Linked DNA regions of Homo sapiens. The protein of the gene in region 1 interacts with the protein of each later gene in a pairwise test. Each region holds a gene or a part of one and is shown on either strand. Other genes may lie near its edges.

What was found. Proteins that work in one complex are often made in the same cells at the same time.
Region 2: the proteins of FAM3C (region 1) and CLEC4E interact in binary tests that used the Homo sapiens proteins (3 or more experiments, as listed by UniProt).

Annotation. Positions count from the first base shown.
Region 1 is NC_000007.14:121,348,341-121,351,313, forward strand, and holds the end of FAM3C (protein FAM3C precursor), read right to left. Parts: intron 2,930-2,973; coding exon 2,803-2,929; intron 2,211-2,802; coding exon 2,121-2,210; 3' UTR 538-2,120; downstream 1-537. UniProt on the Homo sapiens protein: May be involved in retinal laminar formation. Promotes epithelial to mesenchymal transition.
Region 2 is NC_000012.12:8,537,877-8,545,206, reverse strand, and holds the start of CLEC4E (C-type lectin domain family 4 member E), read left to right. Parts: upstream 1-4,301; 5' UTR 4,302-4,409; coding exon 4,410-4,446; intron 4,447-5,259; coding exon 5,260-5,352; intron 5,353-5,900; coding exon 5,901-5,990; coding exon of another isoform or gene 5,991-6,007; intron 6,008-7,330.

The DNA of each region.
Region 1 (2,973 bases):
GACAGCATCGGATTACAAATAAAAAATATGCATCGATAAGCCCATAAGCACCATTTCAAATACTATGTCAATGTTAATTTGATTTTAATAAAGAACATTCTTAATATTAAATGAGCACTGTTTCATGTCTAAAACCGATTTTAAAGAGGTATCTGAAAATGTAGTATAAAGTTATTGCTTTCAAAGTTAAGTTGGCACAATCTATACAAGATTGAACTGAGACAAAAGGAAACCACACCAGTTAACATAACCAATCTTTGTCTTCTTTTAACATTTTATATATCTGGAAAAGCTATCCTTTTACAGTCTTAATAAAAGGGCTTTTTCCGCCATCTAGATACTTAGCTTCTTACATGTTAAGACACATCTAGGATATTACTATTTTTAACCACAGCAACAATTTTTTTTCCAAGTTAGGCAGTATAATAAATGCTTGAAAAACCTTGTGTGAGTTTTTGTGAAGTTCTGTAGGTATATTACTTTGCCAGATAATACAAAAAAAAAAAAAAATTCACAAAGCAAAACCAAGAGTATTTATTTTCATTATTTTAAAAAACTGCAACATTTATTTCACAATCCCTGGAACTGTAAAATAACTATTCTTTTAATTTACAGAATTGAGGGAAGTATTTTAAATGTCAAAATACACATGCTGAATGTGATTTAGCATATAAGCACCAAAAATCCCAAAAGTATACAAAGATTGTTTAAACATATAAGGTGCATTTATTCATGAATTAATTACATTCAGTTTGAAGGAAGAAACAGTACTCCAAAGTTCATCAATATTTAAGAAATTATCCGAATAGCTTCCAACTTGGTTTACAGCTAAATAACAGATACTGCTTTTAGGTTTTTTTATACAATGCATCTAAACTTTAGGTTCGAAATTTAAGTGCTGCCTTACACTGTGAATGGCAGTTTGATCACTAAATTTATGTTCCAGTTTGAGATACTTCATACACAACATATATTTAATGCCCTGAAAACTTCTGCTTAAAAACTGAGTTATTTAGTGAACATCTGAAGGTAACAAAAAAAGATAGATCTTCTATATTTTTATGTAGAATTGGGTATAAAGTCATTTGGGGTCAAACACAATTATTTTTTAAATGTTATCAGTCCGCCCAGTAATAAGAACTTTTGTAAATATGCCACTATAGCTTCGGGCAATAATTGCTATTATGAAGTTAGATAAACACAGGATTAATTTCTTGGTTTACAAATCAAAATTATTGTGATATTAAAGCATGCCTCCTTCCAAACCACTTGGTCAATGCTGATAACAATTAAGAAAAACGTATGCTAGTATTGCTCTAAATATACTGACTTAGCTGTCCTGAATGACCTAATTAGGTTGGGGAGGGGACTTGGCCTGGTTCTCCAGTTCTGTGAAGCTGCCACCTCCAGCCTCACTCTAAATAGCTTATACAAAATCAAGTTATTCCCATAGCTAACACAAATCCAGCAAGCTGTGGTCCTAAATGCCATCTACATTTATATATTTACTTTTTTACTGTGTACATTAAGAATTTTGTTGTGCTTTTCACATATCCGATGTATGTTTTCATATTAAACATTCCTCAGTTTCTTGGGAAGGAAAGAAAAAGATCATGAAAAGAGGTACATCAGGAGAGTCGGACTGTAAAGTAACATTACACACACAACTAGCCAAATCTCTTTTTAATTTAAAAGATAATGTCATCACAACGCAACATATAGAAACATAAAAGAAAATAAAGTATCCACCCTAAAATCCCTATTATTCCATGATATTTTCATAGCAACTAGTATATATATCAATATATTTTTCACAAACCATTCAGTTACACATTGTGTATGCTTTTAGAATTTAAAATATGTATTACCATAGCAGTCTAAACATTGTACTTTTAGGGAAATGTGCGGAGACATGGTTCAGTGATTTGATCATTGTGATGATTATTTACAATGCTATCTATTTACGTTAGCAATAAATAATCCTGATATCAAAAGAGACAATACTCATGCACACACCAAGATGGCTGCATGCTCTTAAAATATTTACACATAGCTCTGCCATTTATAGCTCTCCCATTAAGAGTGAAAGTGCGCTTTCTTCAATTCTCTCCACATTTCCATTAGTCTTGCTTCTGGGGGATGCATCCTTCCATTTCTACAACTTCAGGCCATCCTTCATATTTGTTTGTATCCTTATTGTTCTTTATGTGCTATTGGAACACAGTAATAATATACAGTTTAAAAAACCGTTGTAAACTGCTGATTTGCCGTAACATTTTACACACTTCTCATTTCAGTAATACTCATGTCAACAATAAGTTCATTTAAATTACTGGTCAAGATATTAAATGAGTGACCCTCAGGCTGTATCACATACATGGCAGACCTTCAAATAACAGCTGAAAGAATACATTGCACGTGCTTTTAAAGGATTATTTGCTACTCAAAAACTAACATTTACATTCTACTAAGTTCTAAAATATTTCCAAACTTCACTGATTCTAAAATCCAAAGCTCAATTAAAATCCTTAATAACTAAAGCTTCCGAAAAGGCTTAAGATAGGTAATCCTATTCCAATGCATTGTCCTGTAGGAAAAAATATTCCCATGCAGAATTTTCAAGTTTTGAAATTTAAAAGTACGATAGTTATTTCAAATAACTGATTACCAAGAATTTATGACAAATATATGATCATATTTACTATCCGCTTTATCTAATTTTCAAATAGCTGGGATGGGAAAATGTACCGTAAGGTTTCACAGAATTTGTTTTTGTTAATTCTGAGAGTCTATGACACTAACCTGTTCAAAAGGGCTTTTTGTCTTAATGCCCTTCCCACCACAGAAGACCCAGTTGTCTCTAAAACCAAGATTAGTAATAGATGTGCTCCCCAAATCAGCAATGAGCCGCCGTGCCTCATCATTGAGTCTTGAAGAGGGAGAGAAAGAATACAACAATAAACAGAGGGAACT
Region 2 (7,330 bases), on another chromosome or scaffold:
TGTATGTTAGAGAGGACTGAATAAAATCATGCTTCCAACAGCATCAGCTGTACCCAAGATGGCATCACAATTCAAGCTTTGCTAAAAGCTAAAAGACAGTAATATTCTGTTATCTATTTGCCTAAAACCTTATTTTCTATCTCTATTTAGGGAGAAAATCAAAGCTAATACACATTCATGTGGGATGGATTCCAGTATACATTTGCTATGTTCCCATAAGGTTATTTAAATTCTCCTTTTTATCACGGCACTTGGCAAGAAGATACTTAGATGTGATCAATTAGAAAGTAATATTATTAACTGCATTAATGTCATATTAACTCAATTTGAAGATCTAGCAAAGATTGAATTACTGTATAATGCTTGTTAATCATATGAGGCTGATTAACCCAACTAAAGAACAGGGTCCAGGGGAAATGGTAAAATTCTTAGGCATCACCTGGACAGGGGAGATGAGAGGCATCCCTCAGACAACCAAAAATAAGTAATTGTCTCTGCCAGCTCCAAAATGAAAGCAAGAGGTGCAAAGATGTTGGCTTGTTAATGTGGTGGAGAAATGGCATACCCCTGTTAATAAAGTTATCAAGAAAAAAGCTAAATTTGACTGAAGTTTTGAGCAAGATAATACATTTGTATTTTTTTTTGTTTTATGTTTTTGGAAATTAAAAAGCCCTTGTAAAGCCCTGTGGGGCCCCACGAGTCCCAAACACAGACGATTTAAGAAGTTTCTGCAGCACACAGTCAAGCCATGCTGACTGGAGCCGCTGGCAAAAGCCTGTTACTGCCACCTAGTGGCTGCCTGTGGGATTTTTGTAATAAAAAGCTACCTGGCTGCAGCTTGAAGTAGCACCATTTAAAAGGAATTGCTAGCTTGTTACTGGGTTTTAGTTGAAACTGCTTTTTGTACTGAAGGACATAAAATTATTTGAAAACTCATAACATCCTATTTATATCATATCATCATTCCAACAAGAAATGAAATGCACAGAATTCCCTCCTTGAATAGAAAGGAGATACTCAAGAATGTGAAATGGGGTTACCCAATGCATGCACAGTCAGGTGGCTGACAGGTCACCATAAATTTGGTTCCCCTGAGGAGTTGGCTAAACCTATAGCTGAATAGGCCCCTCTCTCTGGTCAGCTGTCAAGGCAGCAGTGTGGCTTACAGATAGATGGCAGTTCAAGGGTAAAGGGCTGGCCGTCAACCTGGGAAGCAGCAGCCCTGGGATCAGTTAGTGATTGCATGTTAGATGAAAAGACAAAAAATAAATCTGCCCCAAGGCTAAAATTGAGTGATGTTTCTCTTGGCATCAAAGAAAAGTAGATACTAACAATACTCGTATGGCATAGATGTTTACAGCTTTTACTGATTCTTTTTCAGTTGCCTGAAATATTGACAGGCAATATAGTTTAGAAAAGGGACTTAGACGATAAGTTCCTGGATGATATTTAAAAAGGGAAATCAAAGAATCTATTGCTGAACAACAGGTGCTGGAGAGGATGTGGAGAAATAGGAATGCTTTTACACTGTTGGTGGGACGTAAACTAGTTCAACCATTGTGGAAGTCAGTGTGGAGATTCCTCAGGGATCTAGAACTAGAAATACAATTTGACCCAGCCACCCCATTACTGGGTATATACCCAAAGGATTATAAATCATGCTGCTATAAAGACACATGCACACGTATGTTTATTGTGGCACTATTCACAATAGCAAAGACTTGGAACCAACCCAAATGTCCATCAATGATAGACTGGATTAAGAAAATGTGGCACATATACACCATGGAATACTATGCAGCCATAAAAAATGATGAGTTCATGTCCTTTGTAGGCACATGGATGAAGCTGGAAACCATCATTCTCAGCAAACTATCGCAAGAACAAAAAACCAAACACCGCATGTTCTCACTCATAGGTGGGAATTGAACAATGAGAACACTTGGACCCAGGAAGGGGAACATCACACTCTGGGGACTGTTGTGGGGTGGGGGGAGGGGGGAGGGATAGCATTAGGAGATATACCTAATGCTAAATGACGAGTTAATGGGTGCAGCACACCAGCATGGCACATGTATGCATATGTAACAAACCTGCACGTTGTGCACACGTACCCTAAAGCTTAAAGTGTAATAAAAGATAAATAAAAATAAATAAAAATTAATCCCCCCCCCCAAAAAAGAAATCATTAAGCATGGTCAACTTTAGAAGAATGCACTAAGGATAGTTAAGAAGGCTTTTACTTGTCACATGCTTTTCATAGTATTAATCATAAAACATATTACTCGTATAATTTGGGGAAAATCAATGAAACAAAAGATATAAAAACATTTTGGCTGGAAAAAATATTAATTTATTGATTTCTGTTTAATTGTATATTGATAAAAATTAACATACAATTGTTTAGTAATATTGATGGTTGCTGGTTGATTGTAATTAATAAAAGATGGACTGTGGTAATTATGTTCATCATTTTATAATTCATATAGCTCATCCACTAGATAGTTTCTCTTTTTTTACTGATCAAAAGCTATTTGCTGAGAATACACATATTAAATATGGGTATATTCTATAATATACACATATATAATTTAAAGATATTTTTAAAATTGTATTACTATAAAACAGAGAATGCAGAGAAAATTGACCAGTACCTTGAAATAATAAAAAGTCCCTTTGAGAACAAGAATATTTTCTCACACATGGAAAATTCGTGAGTCACTGGATGTGGGGATTTACCAAGTCATGTACATCATACTTATGCCTCCTGACTCGTGAACTTAAATAAACTGAGACCAGTGTGATCTTATTCTTAAGTATCTTTAAGTAAGGAGAAGGCACATATCTAACTATTCTTCCAGAGAAGCATTAATTCTTTTTTTTTTTTTTTTTTGAGACAGAGTCTCACTCTATCGCCCAGGCTGGAGTGCAGTGGTGCAATTTTGGCTCACTGCAACCTCTGCCTCCCAGGATCAAGCTATTCTCCTGTCTCAGCCTCTCAAGTATCTGGAATTACAGATGCGTGCCACCACACTTGGCTAATTTTTGTATTTTTAGTAGAGGTGGGGTTTCACCATGTTGGCCAGGCTGGTCTCAAACTCCTGACCTCAAATGATCCACCCACCTTGGCCTCCCAAAGTGTTGGAATTACAGGCATGAGCCACTGCTCCCGGCCCAGAGAACCATTAAATTCTAATATCTAATTGAAATTGCTTTTTCTGACCTTCAAATACATTTCTCCTACTGTAGGCTGTAACATAGAACTAAAATCCCCAAATAATTGAGAACAGGAGAATTAAACTGCCTGCTGGGTCTCTGAGACTTCAGAAGCTGCGTTATGTTGTGAAAAACTAAGCTGAGTTTCAAAGTGGTCTAATCACATGAGGCTGTCCTGCTGAGGGGGACTCTAGTAGTCAGCCTAGTAGTAGCAGCCTAGTAGTCAGCATAAGATAAGAGGGACATAAATCCACAACATTAGAATATTCAAGAGCTGCAAATGAAGAAGAAAGAAAAACCATAAAAGATGAAAAAGAGGACGGGCGCGGTGGCTCACGCCTGTAATCTCAGGACTTTGGGAGGCTGAGGCGGGCGGATCACGAGGTCAGGAAATTGAAACCATCCTGACGACCACAGTGAAACCCCGTCTCTGCTAAAAATACAAAAAATTAGCCAGGCGTGGTGGCGAGCGCCTGTAGTCCCAGCTACTCGGGAGGCTGAGGCAGGAGAATGGCTTGAACCCGGGAGGCGGAGCTTGCAGTGAGCGGAGATCATGCCACTGCACTCCAGCCTGGACGACAGAGCGAGACTCTGTCTCAAAAAAAAAAAAAAAAAAAAAGATGAAAAAATTCAGGTTGCCATGTCCTAAATACATACACTATATGCCCAGCTTTGTGCTATGTTGTCTAAGTCTTCTTTTCAGTTACCAAATGTGTGGATGGTACAGATCCAAAGTGAAATTCAGAGTGCAGAGGTGAGCTCCATATTGTCAAGGAAAAACTGGGGGATGAGTTATGCCTTGAAGAAACTAGAGACATTTGGTCCAACGAAACGAAACAACATTTAAAAAAAAAACTCTCCTGTTTCCCCATGGCTAGCCTATTTGTGTTGATGCTTACCATTTCATAATTTCCTCATTTTGTTGTTACATGGAGTGAAGAGAACTGACATGCTGTCCAATAAACTTCCTTGTCCTCCTTATGCAAGAAAGGAAATCCTGACTTAATGCGTAGCCACAGAACAAGTTAATATTCTACATCTATCGGAGCTGAACTTCCTAAAAGACAAAGTGTTTATCTTTCAAGATTCATTCTCCCTGAATCTTACCAACAAAACACTCCTGAGGAGAAAGAAAGAGAGGGAGGGAGAGAAAAAGAGAGAGAGAGAAACAAAAAACCAAAGAGAGAGAAAAAATGAATTCATCTAAATCATCTGAAACACAATGCACAGGTAAAATCTGCAACTCTTCCTTTCCTTCCATAGATCTCTTTTTGGAACAAGTGATAAATATGGTGAAAGACAGGACAATAGAAAAGTATTCACTGAAGTTAAAAAAAAAAGTGGGGGGACAGAGGAAGAGAGAGAGAGAGATTTAAAGACTATTTCTTATACCAGAAAGCCTGCTGGCCTCTAGCTAAGGGAGAGCTATCAGTTTCCACCCTTTCTGCAATACATTGTGTCCCTTTTGGCAAGTCACTTCACTTCTCTGGAACTCTCTTTGTCTGTAAAATGTTTAATGGGAGGAAGAGAGGAACTATTAGATGACTGTTAACATTTTACCTAATTTACAAAGCGCTTGAAAAGTGAGACACAGAAAAAAAAAAAAGATCAGGAGAAGGACAAGAAAAGCAAAGACGAGAAAAGGGAAAAGAAAGAAAAAGAAAGAAGGGGGGCCTTAGAAAATACTGAAAAAAATTTAACTGAGAGACTTAGAAAGGAAAAATTGTATATCTGAGTTCATGAGTCAGAGTCTTACTCCAGGGGTGCTAAACGTGTGGTCCTCAGACCAGCAGCAGCAGTAGCCCCTGGGAACTTGTTGGTTCCATACAAACTCTACTGAGTTGCTAACTCTGGGGGTAAGGGTCAGCAATCTGTGTTTCCATAAACCCTCCAAGTGATTCTGAAGCATGCTGAAATTTGGGAATTACTCAGTACAAACAATGGAAGTAGAAGGAAATAAGTAAGGATGAATAAGAATCTCTTCTATCTCTTTTGTACCTTGCTTAGGGAAGATTGATCATGTTTGTGTCTTTCTTTCTACAGAGAGAGGATGCTTCTCTTCCCAAATGTTCTTATGGACTGTTGCTGGGATCCCCATCCTATTTCTCAGTGCCTGTTTCATCACCAGATGTGTTGGTGGGTTCTGAAGGTCAAATTCAATTTAATTCTTCCTGGTGCATATTAGGAGAAAACTCTTCCATGCTGCCTGTAGACTCTCTTTGCCCTCAAAGGGTCTTTCTATTTCACCCTTTTTTTTTTCCCTATTAATCTCTAGGTTATTTCTCAAACCAGAAACCTCAACAAGCAGGGAACTGTTTCTGAATTTTAATCACCTGTGACTTACTTTTCATGATAGACATTTTTCACTTCCTTGGCAGTCCTGAATCCTCCTCTTTCAGCCTCTATCATTAGTGTAACCTTCTCTAGGAGAGTCTGCCTTAGAGCTTGAACTACTGGTCGGCACCAGAGATATGACTAATTACTTTTGGAAGGAAGGGTAGAGAGAGTTGGACTTGGCATAAGAGGTAGTGCAAACATATCTATTTTCTCTGGGTCGTAAGAAAAAGCAGATTGTAAGAAAAAACATGATAATTATTGGCACTTTTGTTATAAATACAAAACTGAGGGAACTGACATTTTTAACCGAAATAAGACTAACAAACATTATGCCCTTTCTTTTACAGTGACATTTCGCATCTTTCAAACCTGTGATGAGAAAAAGTTTCAGCTACCTGAGAATTTCACAGAGCTCTCCTGCTACAATTATGGATCAGGTATAATAGTCCCAAAGGTGAACATCAAAATTTACAAAGCAACATTTTCTGGCTTCTAGATTGACTTTGGGACAGGTGAGATATAGCTGGATTAGGTCTTATTTTTCAAAAGCAAAATGTAAAATCCTAGAAATTTGGTGATGCAATTAGCATTGGGGCAGAAAGTCTTGGGGACATTATAGTAAACTTTTAGAATAAATTTGAGGGGTATGTCTGAACAGTAAATCTGGAAGTGGAAGGTATTATTCCCAGGAGTGTACCTTTTTTTTCATTCACCTACTTCCAAAATGAGATGGAGAAAAAACGTATGGAGTAGAGAATTTATAAATATCTCACAAATATACTCTCTATGCTCTTCTATGTCATCCTGTTGCAAGTCCTAGCAAAATGCTACATGACACTAAAAAAGTGACTTCCTTCTCTGAGCTATAATTTTCTCACCATTAAATTGAGAGAAGTTAGAAGAATTATTTATAATAGACCTCAAAGGCAAAAGTTCTGTAATTCTAAGAAATCTAACTGTAGGGACCAGCCCCACAGGGTTGGTGGGTCTCTCCCTGTGTCCAGAGACGAGAGCATGTAGAAATAAAGACACAAGACAAAGAGATAAAAGAAAAGGCAGCTGGGCCCAAGGGACCACTACCACCAATGCGCGGAGACCGGTAGTGGCTCCGAATGTCTGGCTGCGCTGTTATTTATTGGATACAAGGTGAAAGGGGCAGGGTAGAGAGTGTGAGTCATCTCCAATGATAGGTAAGGTCATGTGGGTCACGTGTCCACTGGACAGGGGGACCTTCCCTGCCTGGCAGCCGAGGCAGAGAGGGAGAGGAGACAGAGAGAAAGACAGCTTACGCTATTATTTCTGCATATCAGGGACTATTAGTACTTTCGCTAATTTACTACTGCTATCTAGAAGGCAGAGCCAGGTGTACAGGATGGAACATGAAGGCAGACTAGGAGTGTGACCACTGAAGCACAGCATCACAGGGAGACGGTTAGGCCTCCGGATAACTGCGGGCAAGCCTGACTAATGTCAGGCCCTCCACAAGAGGTGGAGGAGCAGAGTCTTCTCTAAACTCCCCCAGGGAAAGGAAGACTCCCTTTTCCTGTCTGCTAAGTAGCGGGTGTTTTCCCTTGACACTTAACGCTACCGCTAGACCACAGTCTGTCTGCCTGGCCACGGGCGTCTTCCCAGACGCTGGCGTCACCGCTAGACCAAGGAGCCCTCTGGTGGCCCTGTCCGGGCATAACGGAAGGCTCGCACTCTTGTCTTCTGGTCACACCTCACTATGTCCCCTCAGCTCGTAGCTCTGTACGGCCTGGTTTTTCCTTGGCTATGA